Homo sapiens: one gene and its partner. The protein of the gene in region 1 purifies or fractionates together with the protein of each later gene. This does not show direct contact. Each region holds a gene or a part of one and is shown in the gene's direction. Other genes may lie near its edges. The genes, in order: NIPSNAP1 and KLHL22.

Region 1 (8,204 bases):
GCTCCCTTTCAAGGAGGGTAAATAGGGCCAGGCACGGTGGCTCACGCCTGTAATCCCAGCACTTTGGGAGGCCAAGGCGGGCGGATCACGAGGTCAGGAGATCGAGACCATCCTGGCTAACACAGTGAAACCCCGTCTCTACTAAAAATACAAAAAAAAATTAGCTGGGCGTGGTGGTGGGCACCTGTAGTCCCAGCTAGACGGGAGGCTGAGGTAGGAGAATGGCCTGAACCTGGGAGGCAGAGCTTGCAGTGAGCCGAGATTGCGCCACTACACTCCAGCCTGGGCAACAGAGCGAGACTCCATCTCAAAAAAAAAAAAAAAAAAAAAAAAAAGGAGGGTAAATAGATTTAGTTAAGCAAGGAAAAGATTCTGGGATGGAGTGGGTATATCTCCTGGGGAGAGAACTAGGGCCGTAATTGGGGTGACCAAAGGTTCTGGCTTGTCCAGGACTGAGGGGTTTTCTGGGATGGAGGACTTTCAGTGCTAAAACTGAGAAAGTCCAGGATAAACTGGGATATGTGGTTGCCCTAGCTGAGGTGGGAGTAGGGGCCTTGAGGTTGCCCTTCTAGTCAGCGGCCACACTGTGGTTCATGTGGGTTGGGGAGGGATGCCCATATCCCATCTCTCCCAGGCAGGGGTGGAAGCATGCTCCCAGCACCACCTTTTTTCACCCTCCTGCCCTATTTGGCTGGACAGAGATGGAAAACCCTTCTTAGAAATGCTAAGACCCACAGGAGGAGGCTGCAGGTCAGTCCTCCCTCATTCTCCTCACCTGGGAGGCAGTGTGAGGCAGCCAGGAATGCCAAGGCTTTGGTGAGAGCCTCTCACCCTAAACCACCAAGGCCGGCTCCTCCCTGTCCTTGGGTCCAGCTTGCTGTGGCCTGACTGCCAAATGCCCTCTACCACATAGCCAACGTGCTGCTACTCGGCCTCTGTTGACACAATTCAATGACATGCCACCAAGGCAGCCCATTCCATTGTTAGAAAATTATTCCAGCCAGGTGCGGTGGCTCACACTTGTAATTCCAGCACTTTGGGAGGCTGAGGTGGGTGGATCATTTGAGGTCAGGAGTTCAAGACCGGCCTGGCCAATGTGGTGAAATCCCATCTCTACTAAAAATACAAAAATTAGCTGGATGTGGTAATGCAAGCCTGTAATCCCAGCTATGCGGGAGGCTAAAGCAGGATAATCGCTTGAGCCTAGGAGGTGGAGGTTGCAGTGAGCTGAGATCACGCCATTGCACTCCAGCCTGGGCGACAGAGTGAGACCCTGTCTCAAAAAAAAAAAAAAAAAAAAGAGAAACAAAATTATTCCTGTACTGAATGAGAGGCTGCCATCACATAATCTCCACCCATTCATTATATTCAACTGTGCTTTCTTCCTGGAAGAGCCCTCAACACACACCCCTCATTTTTTTTTTTTTTTTTTTTTTTTTGAGACAGAGTATTGCTGTCACCCAGGCTGGAGTGCAGTGGCACAATCTCCACTCACTGCAACCTCTGCCTCCTGGGATCAAGCCATTCTCATACTTCAGCCTCCAGAGTAGCTGGGACCACAGGTGTGGCTACCATGACTGGCTAACTTTTTGTATTTTTAATAGAGATCGGGTTTTGCCATGTTGGCCAGACTGGTCTCAAACTCTTGGCCTTAATTGATCCACCTGCCTCGGCCTCCCAAAGTGCTGGGATTACAGGCGTGAGCCACCGCGCCTGGCCTCTGGCAGCCCCTTCACATACTGAGTACACATTGCTTCCTCTGAGTTTCCGCTGGTCCTTCCCTCTCTCCTGGCAGACTCCTACTCATCCTTTGAAGCTCAGGTCCAAAGTCAGGTTGGCGGAGGTGGTCACTTCCACCACTCCACAGTCAGTCTGCCACGCTGGGTTCCTAAGGAAAGAGCTGCTCCCACCACATGACACCATTTGCTGTGCTTCCATCAACCCACCTGGGTTTTTCCTGAGTGGCTTTGACTGGGGACTCTGCTAAGATCATACTGACTTTGATTTTTTTTTTTTTTTCGAGATGGAATCTCTATCACCCAGGCTGGAGTGCAGTGGCGCGATCTTGGCTCACTGCAACCTCTGCCTCCTGGGTTTAAGCCATGTTCCTGACTCAGTCTCCGGAGTAGCTGGGGTTACAGGTGTGCGTCACCATGCCATGCCTGGCTAATTTTTGTATTTTTATTTTTTATTTTATTTATTTGTTTGTTTTGTTGAGACGGAGTTTCGCTCTTGTTTCCCAGGCTGGAGTGCAATGGCGCGATCTTGGCTCACTAAAATCTCTGCCTCCTGGGTTCAAGTGATTCTCCTGCCTCAGCCTCCTGAGTAGCTGGGATTGCAGGCACATGCCACCACATCCGGCTAATTTTTATATTTTTAGTAGAGATGGGGTTTCATCATATTGATCAGGCTGGTCTCGAACCCCTGACCTCAGGTGATTCCCCTGCCTTGGCCTCCCAAACTGCTGGGATTACAGGCATGAGCCACTGCGCCCGGCCTAATTTTTGTATTTTTAGTAGAGATGGGGTTTCACCATGTTGGCCAGGCTGGTCTCGAACTCCTGACCTCAGGTGATCCACCCACCTTGGCTTCCCAAAGTGCTGGATTTACTGGCATGAGCCACCGCACCCAGCCTGATTTATTTATTTAATTAAAAAATCATAACTCACTACAGCCTGGACCTCCTACCTCAAGTGATTTTCCTGCCTCAGCCTCCTGAGTAGCTGGGACTACAGGTGTGTGCTACCATGCTCAGCTAATTTTTTGAATTTTCATAGATCCTCCTGCCTTGGCCTCCCAAAGTGCTGGGATTACAGGCATGAGCCACCACACGTGGTCCTAATCTTAAAATTATTATTATTTTTTTATAGAGACTGGGTCTTGCTCTGTTGCCCAGGCTGGAGCGCAGTGGTGCAATCATGGCCTGGCCTCCACTCCCCCCATGCCAAGCATAACAGGAGGCAACCACTAGTCAGTGGGTGGACATTCTTTTGGGGAGCTGTCCCTGCCCCTTTGGAAGTGGATAGAGCCCCTGCCCCCTGTGGGGTCTGCAGGCTCTCCACCCCTGCCAATGTCTGTGATCTGGGGGATTGTGGGCTGAGAAGGGATTAGTTTAGAGGGCGGGCAAAAGAGCTGGGCAGGGCAGAAAGAGGCCCCAGGATTTTCAGGCAGAGAAGTCAAAGGGGGATGAAAAGGGGAAAGGAGATGGTGGAGATAAAGTGTCTGCAGCTGACAGCCTTGCCCCTGTCTTCACTTGTAAGGAAGTTTGTTTCTTTGATGGTGATAAACCTGGCATGTGAATGCCTTTCCCCAGAGAATGCACCACAGAGGAGCACGTAACGTTGTATACAATTTCAGGGGGCTTACTGATGCAACCCCTTTGCAGAAATTTTAACAGTGAGAAAATTATGACAGTGAAAGTGATCTGACCTAACCGACTCCATTTTGCTTCTAACCCCCAAACTGTCCATATTCATTCCTGGGCATAGGCCAAACTTACAGTCTTTTTGTTTGTTTTTTGAGACGGAGTTTCGCTCTTGTTGCCCAGGCTGGAGTGCAGTGGCGCGATCTCGGCTCACTGCAACCTCTGCCTCCAGGGTTCAAGAGATTCTCCTGCCTCAGCCTCCCGAGTAACTGGGATTACAGGTGCCCGCCACCATGCCTGGCTAATTTTTTTGTATTTTTAGTAGAGACGGGGTTTCACCCTGTTGGCCAGGCTGGTCTTGAACTCTTGACCTAAACTTCTGATCCACCTTTGCCTCCCAAAATGCTGGGATTACAGGCATGAGCCACCATGCCCGGCAGCAAATTTATAGTTCAACTTTGAAACAAAGATAACAGCCCTCTCCCAAAATAAACCCCTTTCTTGCCTGGGGACCAGACTGCTTTTGTAAGACTAACAAATTAGCCACGAGATTAGAAATTACGGTTTAGGAGTCATGCAGGTAGTGGCCACAGATTCTAAACCTCCCCAGTTGCTCCTAGGGATAACATCACTACTGTAAAACCTAAGATTGGTGCTCAAGATATTTTTCCGATCCTGCACTCAATGGATCCGCTGGCGATACACAGATTAAGAAACCGGATCATCCGGTTTTGTGGCCCCCACCCAGAGATCCACTCAGCACAAGAGGACGGCTTCCACTCCCTATGATTGCATCTCCGACCTGACCAATCAGCACTCTCCACTCTCTGGCCCCTACCCACCAAATTATCCTTAATAAAACCCAGTCTCCGAATTTTCAGGGAGACTGATTTGAGTAATAATAAAACTCCGGTCTCCCATTCAGCCGGCTCTGCATGAATTAAACTCTTATTGCAATTCCTCTGTCTTGATAAATCCGCTGTCTGGGAAACGGGCAAAATGAACCCATGGGGTGGTTACACTGACCCTCTGCTGCACATCCCGGACAGCCTTGTTAAGAACCCTTGGTAGGCTGGGCATGGTGGCTCACGCCTGTAATCCCAGCACTTTGGGAGCACGAGGCAGGCAGATCACGAGGTCAGGAGATCGAGACCATCCTGGCTAACACGGTGAAACCCCGTTTCTACTAAAAATACAAAAAATTAGCTGGGCGTGGTGGCAGACGCCTGTAGTTCCAGCTACTCGGGAGGCTGAGGCAGGAGAATGGCGTGAACCCAGGAGGCGGAGCTTGCAGTGGGCCGAGATCGCGCCACTGCGCTCCAGCCTGGGCGACAGAGCGAGACTCCGTCTCAAAAAAAAAAAAAAAAAAAAAAAGAACCCTTGGTATTATTGTTCCACGCTCCCATTTTACCGAGGTGGATCCTGAGGCCCAGAGTGGGCAAAGGGCTTGCCAAGGTCGCAGAGCGCGCAGAGGATTAGAACCCTGACTTCCGTCCAGCACCTGCGGAGTTGGAGACGCCCACAGGAAACGCCCACCTGACCGGGTGAGTGAGGGGGCGGGCGAGCCGGAGGGGTGGAGTTTATTCGCGCCCCGCCTCCGCCACCAGGGCTTGGGGGCGGGGCCTTCCTGCAACCTTTGCGGCTCCAACATGGCTCCGCGGCTGTGCAGCATCTCTGTGACGGCGCGGCGGCTGCTGGGGGGCCCGGGGCCTCGCGCTGGGGACGTTGCGTCTGCAGCTGCGGCGCGGTGAGAGCCCGGCCAGGCAGGGATAGACGCGCGCGGGGTGGGGTGCAGGCGCGGGGGCCAGGGACTGGGTCGTGGGGGAGGGGCTGAGACTCCTCGCTTGGAATCTGGGGGTTAGAGGCGGGGCAGGATCAAGGCCTAGGGAGGGGTCTGGGCAAAGAATGGGGGAGGTGAGAAAGGGATGGGTAGGGTCTTTGTCCTGGTTGGGACCGGGCTGTGATGGGGACCTGATGAAAGATGGTGAGAAGGGCAGGTACTGGGCCCTGGAGAGTGGGAGAGGGCAGAAGACAGGAGGAGTGGCCCATTCCCAGGCGTAGCTTGTGATTTAACACCCACTGGGGGCTTCTGGTAGTCAGCTCCTCCGTCGGGAAGTTCTGTGGGAAAGAGATGATGGCAGGGGAGCAGTGGGGGATCCCCAGGGGCCATGGCTGCACAGACCCTTTGTTCCTCCACCTCGAACTGTACAGGTGGGGAAACGGACCTGAGAGGGAATGGGAGTTGTCCAAGGTCACCCTCCCTGCTGTGCCGTGGCAGCACCAGGTCTGGGACCCAGGCCTGCCAATGCGCCATGCACTTTGCACCCAACTGGTGGCCTCCTGGGAGTGGGAGTCTGGCTGGGCCATGTGCTCTCAGCCTGGGCTTTTGTTTGGGCCCTGCTCTGGGCTGAGCTAGGGCTTGGCCTCCCTGACTGGCCCTGGGCAGCCCCTCACTCCTTGGTCCCCACAGCCCTGTACTTCCCCCATCTCTGCATATATGACCCTGCACAGTTATGACTTGGTGCTTGTCTGTCTCTCTCACTAGACCATGATCTCATTTTTCTCTGTTTCCCCAGCCTCCCACCCTCAGAGGGCTCAGGACTGTGTATGGTCAAGGAATATTTACCAAAGAAGTGAGGCCACCTGTTCCCCCTCCCCCAACCTGTGAAAAGGAAGCAACCATCCCTCCTGCCCTGCAGCCCAGGAATGAAGCTGCAAAGTTCTGATAGTGCCTGCCATGAGATGTTACAGCACAGAGCAGTGGGGCTTTTGGACAGCTGGGAAAGAGGAGTGGCATAAGCGCCCCACCTAGACTGCCCAATAATTAGGGATAAAGCTGACACCGTGGGAAAAGCCTAGAGTTTGCCTGGCACTAACAGATCTAACTCAGACTTTGTAGGTGGGGTGACCTCAGGACTCTTTAAGCCTCGGGTTCCTCATCTGTAAAATGGGAGTAATCAGGATGTATCTCATAGGGTTGTTGAGGATTAAAGATGCTGTGGTTGGTCGGGTATGGTGGCTCATGCCTGTAATCCCAGCACTTTGGGAGGCCGAGGCAGGCAGATCACTTGAGGTCAGCAGTTCAAGACCAGCTTGGCAACACGGCGAGATCCTGTCTCTATAAAAAGTACAAAAATGGCCGGGCGCGGTGGCTCACGCCTGTAATCCCAGCACTTTGGGAGGCCGAGGCGGTGGATCACGAGGTCAGGAGATCGAGACCATCCTGGCTAACACGGTGAAACCCCATCTCTACTAAAAATACAAAAAATTAGCTGGGCGCGGTGGCAGGCGCCTGTAGTCCCAGCTACTCAGGAGGCTGAGGCAGGAGAATGGCGTGAACCCAGGAGGCGGAGCTTGCAGTGAGCCGAGATCCTGCCACTGCACTCCAGCCTGGGCGACAAGAGTGAGACTCTGTCTCAAAAAAAAAAAAAAAAAAAAAAAAGTACAAAAATTTCACCATGTTGGTGAAAACGTGTCTCTACTAAAAATACAATTAGCTGGGTGTGATGGCTCACCCCTGTAATCCCAGCTACTAGGAAGCTGAGGCAGGAGAATCAATTGAACCCGGGAGACAGAGGTTGCAGTGAGCCGAGATCACGCTACTGCACTCCAACCCGGGTGACAGAGCGAGACTCCGTCTACAAAAAAAAAAGATTCCGTGGTTGTGAAGTGTCTAGCACTTGACGAACATGCAGTAAGTGTTGCTCCTTAACCCCTAGCCTATGTTTCAAGCAATTTCTGCATGTGACCCACATAATGTTGAGGCTCAAAGGGCTCTGGGAAGATCATCTTTTATGAGCCCTTTGTTTTCCAGATAAAAATATCAAGATTGGGGAAGGGACAGAATGGATTGGTGGTAAAACCATTTGTGTGGCAAACACCCAGAGGCTGTAAAAGGAGCATGGGTCTCAGAGTCAGCCTGCTGCCCCTCACTCAGTGACCCTGGATGAGTTGCTGAACCTCCGTCAGCCTCAGTTTCCTTTTCTGTAAAGTGGGGATGTTGGTGTTTTCGGCAGGATTGCTATGAAGCCACTTGAATTAATGTTTATCAAGTCCCTCAAGGACTGTCTTGCAGTTACTTATACCTTAATTCCACATTGGATACCTGAGAACACTCTGTCCTGCTGCCCCTCAGGCTGCCCCATATCTCTCCAGAGTCACTAGTAGGGCCAGCAGCAGCCCTTCTGGCCTGTGAGGTTTGGGGGCAATGAGGCTGCTGGGGTGGGGATGGAGTGTGGGCTTTGAAATCAGATGGACCTGGGCCAGGCACCATTGCTCACGCCTGTAATCCCAACACTTCGGTAGGCCAAGGTGGGAGGATTGCTTGAACCCAGGAGTTTGAGACCAGCCTGGGCAACATGGCGAGATCCTGTCTCTATAAAAAATACAAAAATTTGGCCAGGCACAGTGGGTCATGCCTGTAATCCCAGCACTTTAGGAGGCTGAGGCGGGTGGATCACCTGAGGCCAGGAGTTCAAGACCAGCTTGGCCAACATGGTGAAACCCCATCTCTACTAAAAACACAAAAATTAGCCAGGCCAGGCCTGGTGACTCCCACCTGTAATCCTAGCACTTTGGGAGGCCCAGGCAGGCGGATCATGAGGTCAGGTATTCAAGACCAGCCTGGCCAACATGGTGAAACCCCGTCTTTATTAAAAATACAAAAATTAGCTGGGCATGGTGTGTGCGCCTGTAATCCCAGCTACTCTGGAGGCTGAGGCAGGAGAATCGCTTAAACCAGGGAGGTGGAGGTTGCAGTGAGCTGAGATCGCACCAGTGCACTCCAGCCTGGGTGATAGAGCAAGACTCTGTCTCAAAAAAAAAAAAAAAAAAAAATTAG
Region 2 (3,132 bases), 9.1 Mb from region 1:
CATGTCGGCCAGGCTGGTCTCAAACTCCTGACCTCAGGTGATCCACGCACCTCAGCCTCCCAAAGTGCTAGGATTACAGGCGTGAGCCACCACCCCCGGCCTCCCCTTCCACTTTTTTTGTTTGTTTGTTTGAGACAGAGTCTCGCTCTGTCGCCAGGCTGGAGTGCAGTGGTGCTCTTGGCTCACTGCACCCTTTGCCTCCTGGGTTCAAGTGATTCTCCTGCCTCAGCCTCCCGAGTAGCTGGGGTTACAGGCATGTGCCACCATGCCCAGCTGATTTTTGTATTTTTAGTAGAGACGAGGTTTCACCATGTTGGCCAGGATGGTCTTGATCTCTTGACCTTGTGATCAGCCCGCCTTGGCCTCCCAAAGTGCTGGGATTACAGGCGTGAGCCACCACGCCCGGCCTCTCCCCTTCCACTTTTAAGGGCTCATGCAATTGGATGGATCACCTGGAAAATCCAGGAAAACTGCCCCATCTCAGGGTCTGCACCCTTAATCCTTTTTTTTTTTGTATTCTTGTACCCTTGATCCTATCTGCAAAGCCCCTTTGGCTGCTTAAGGTAGCATATTCTGGAGATTAGGAACTAGACATCTTTGGGGGCCACTATTCTGCCCACCATAGCTAGAGAACCAAAAACGGCTAATCAGTCAAGAAGGTAAGATTTTTATGGCTCTTAATACTTATTGCCAAATTCCTTTTCTGGCATGTCAGACAGATACATAGTAGTATGGCTTTACCACACCCTCAACAGCATTGGGTTTTGTGATTTTCCTTCTCTGCAGTGGTTGCTAGTTGAAAAATTTGTCTCTGATGTTTTGATTTTGCGTTTCTTGAATTACTAGTAGGTTGAACATTTTTCCATGTCTTTGTTTACTGTTTGGACAATTTTGAAGACAAGAGAATATTGATGTTGACTACTCCGCAAGGAATTACTTCCACTTTCTGTCTCCTCCCCCTGTCCTACTGCCTGTGTTGAGTGCTGCAGAAGGAGGTTGAAGACATTTCAGTGGAGTCCATGTCTCTCAGGCAGCTTCGTTTCCTGGAGGGGAGAGAAGCAGTGCCCTCAGACATGGGGAATGACCACATGCTGATGGGGGCACAGCCACACACTCGGGGGCAGAGACTGGCTTAGGGCCGGGTGGCCTAGAGGAAGGGCTGGGCTGGAGCAAAGCCAGAGAGAATAGGATCATTCTAGGGGAGGGCCCAAAAGACAGCCTCCTGCAGACTCGGCCATCCCTGGGTGAGAAAGCAGCAGCCTGGCCCATGGACAGGATGTTTCAACACTGGCCCTGTGCCATCCTTCCAGGGGGCCTGACCTGTCAGAATGGTGGGTAACTGTTGCCACCTTGGTCAGTGGGCTTGTGGGGGAGCTGGCAGCCTCGTCCCAGTGGGTGCTGGGCTTTATTCTAGCCTTGGCTTTGCAGGTGGCCTGCTACAGCTGCACGTCTGGACAGTGGTCATCTGTCTGCCCACTCCCTGCTGGGCACGGTGAGCCTGGCATTGCTGTGCTGGACAACAGGATCTATGTGTTAGGTGGCCGCTCACACAACCGCGGCAGCCGCACAGGCTACGTGCACATTTACGATGTGGAGAAGGACTGCTGGGAGGAAGGGCCCCAGCTGGACAACTCCATCTCAGGCCTGGCGGCCTGTGTGCTCACCCTGCCCCGCTCCCTGCTCCTTGAGCCGCCCCGCGGGACCCCTGACCGCAGCCAGGCCGACCCGGACTTTGCCTCTGAGGTGATGAGTGTGTCTGACTGGGAGGAGTTTGACAACTCCAGTGAGGACTAGGCTCCCTGTGCCTGGCATCAGAGGGAAGGGAGGCTGGGGCTGCAGGGCAGTGAAACCCACGCAGCCTAGGCCAGAGCACTTTACTCCAGGCAGGGCCCCTGCCCCTGTTGGCCACAGCTTATGGGCCCTGCCCTCTTTCTTCACACCAGCCCCTTGGCCAGCCTGCCGCAGGCATCTCAGGGCCATGCAGATCCCAGGCTGTGGATTACGTCACTGCAGGAACTGCTTCTGAAAGGCTTTGGCCTTCCTCAGTGAGCCCTGGAGGGGTTGGCCTTCTCTCCTCCCTGCCTAGATCAGTCCTTCTCCAAAAGGACCTGGGAGCTGGCAGCCTGGGCAGGGGGGCTGAGGCACGTGGTAGCCCTCTTTCTGTGAATGGGGTGGGGCTGTGGGGGCAGCTGGGGTTGGAGGATGAGAGCTCCTGAGGGGCAGAGGAGCAGAGATGCATCAGCTCGCCTGGGACTGGCTCTGTGATAAAAAGACCCCTCCCGCTGGGTTTTCAGACCCCATGTTGTTGGTCAATGAAATAAAGCATCTTACAGAAGGTGTTAACTGTTTTTCTGTAGCCACAGCCTCAGTTCCTTTCCACAGTGCACCCAAGCTGCGTCCCCAGGAAGCGTGGCTTCTGGGGTCAGAGCTGCCATCTGGGAGAGGCTGTGGAAGCCCAGGCCAGAAGCCAAGTGGCACTGGGAAGACCCTGCCTGAGAGGGAAGCACAGTAAACTCCACAAGCTAACAGGGCACTCAGTGGGAAAGCTGGAACTCGCCCTGGTCTGGTGACAGGTGGTTGTGCAGCCACTTGAGTGTCTTCTCTGGTGTGGAACTTGTCTCCCAACCAGGGCAGCACGCAGAGTTTCAGCCCAGCTCGTTAGGAGTCTCTCAGCCTGAGGGTCAGGGAACCAGAGCTTCAGCACCTGGGAGCGGGGCAGCATCAGGGGGTCGGTGGGGGGGGCCCCTCTGGCCTGTGCCCGGCTCCTCCCAACCTCCTGAAGCTGAGTGTGCTGGGGAGGGGAGCTGCATGTGCTACAGGTTTGCCAGGTAACCCTTAGGCACCCAGTCTCAAGGACCACACTGGCACAGCAGCTGGGACCCTCCCCTGTTCACCTGTCCCCATGCTTTTCTTGCCCTCTTGAGACTGCCAGGCTTAGCCTGCACCCTGCATGGATGGGCTGTGAGCCCACACCAGCCTCACTGCAGGGCTGCACCACACGAAGCTTTCTTCCATCCTGATGCCCTCATAGGGTCTGCACCTGCAGACTCCTACTATGAGCCTTGTGCCCAGAGCCATCCCGCAGACAGGGCTGTAACTTGCCAAGGCCCCATCCTTTCCCAGTTGACTGGG

The links.
Region 2: the proteins of NIPSNAP1 (region 1) and KLHL22 purify together in Homo sapiens (co-immunoprecipitation; 2 studies listed by IntAct). This does not show direct contact.

Annotation. Positions count from the first base shown.
Region 1 is NC_000022.11:29,577,892-29,586,095, reverse strand, and holds the start of NIPSNAP1 (protein NipSnap homolog 1), read left to right. Parts: upstream 1-4,982; 5' UTR 4,983-5,013; coding exon 5,014-5,111; intron 5,112-8,204.
Region 2 is NC_000022.11:20,440,735-20,443,866, reverse strand, and holds the end of KLHL22 (kelch-like protein 22), read left to right. Parts: intron 1-663; exon of another isoform or gene 664-1,043; intron 1,044-1,428; coding exon 1,429-1,794; 3' UTR 1,795-2,348; downstream 2,349-3,132. UniProt on the Homo sapiens protein: Substrate-specific adapter of a BCR (BTB-CUL3-RBX1) E3 ubiquitin ligase complex required for chromosome alignment and localization of PLK1 at kinetochores.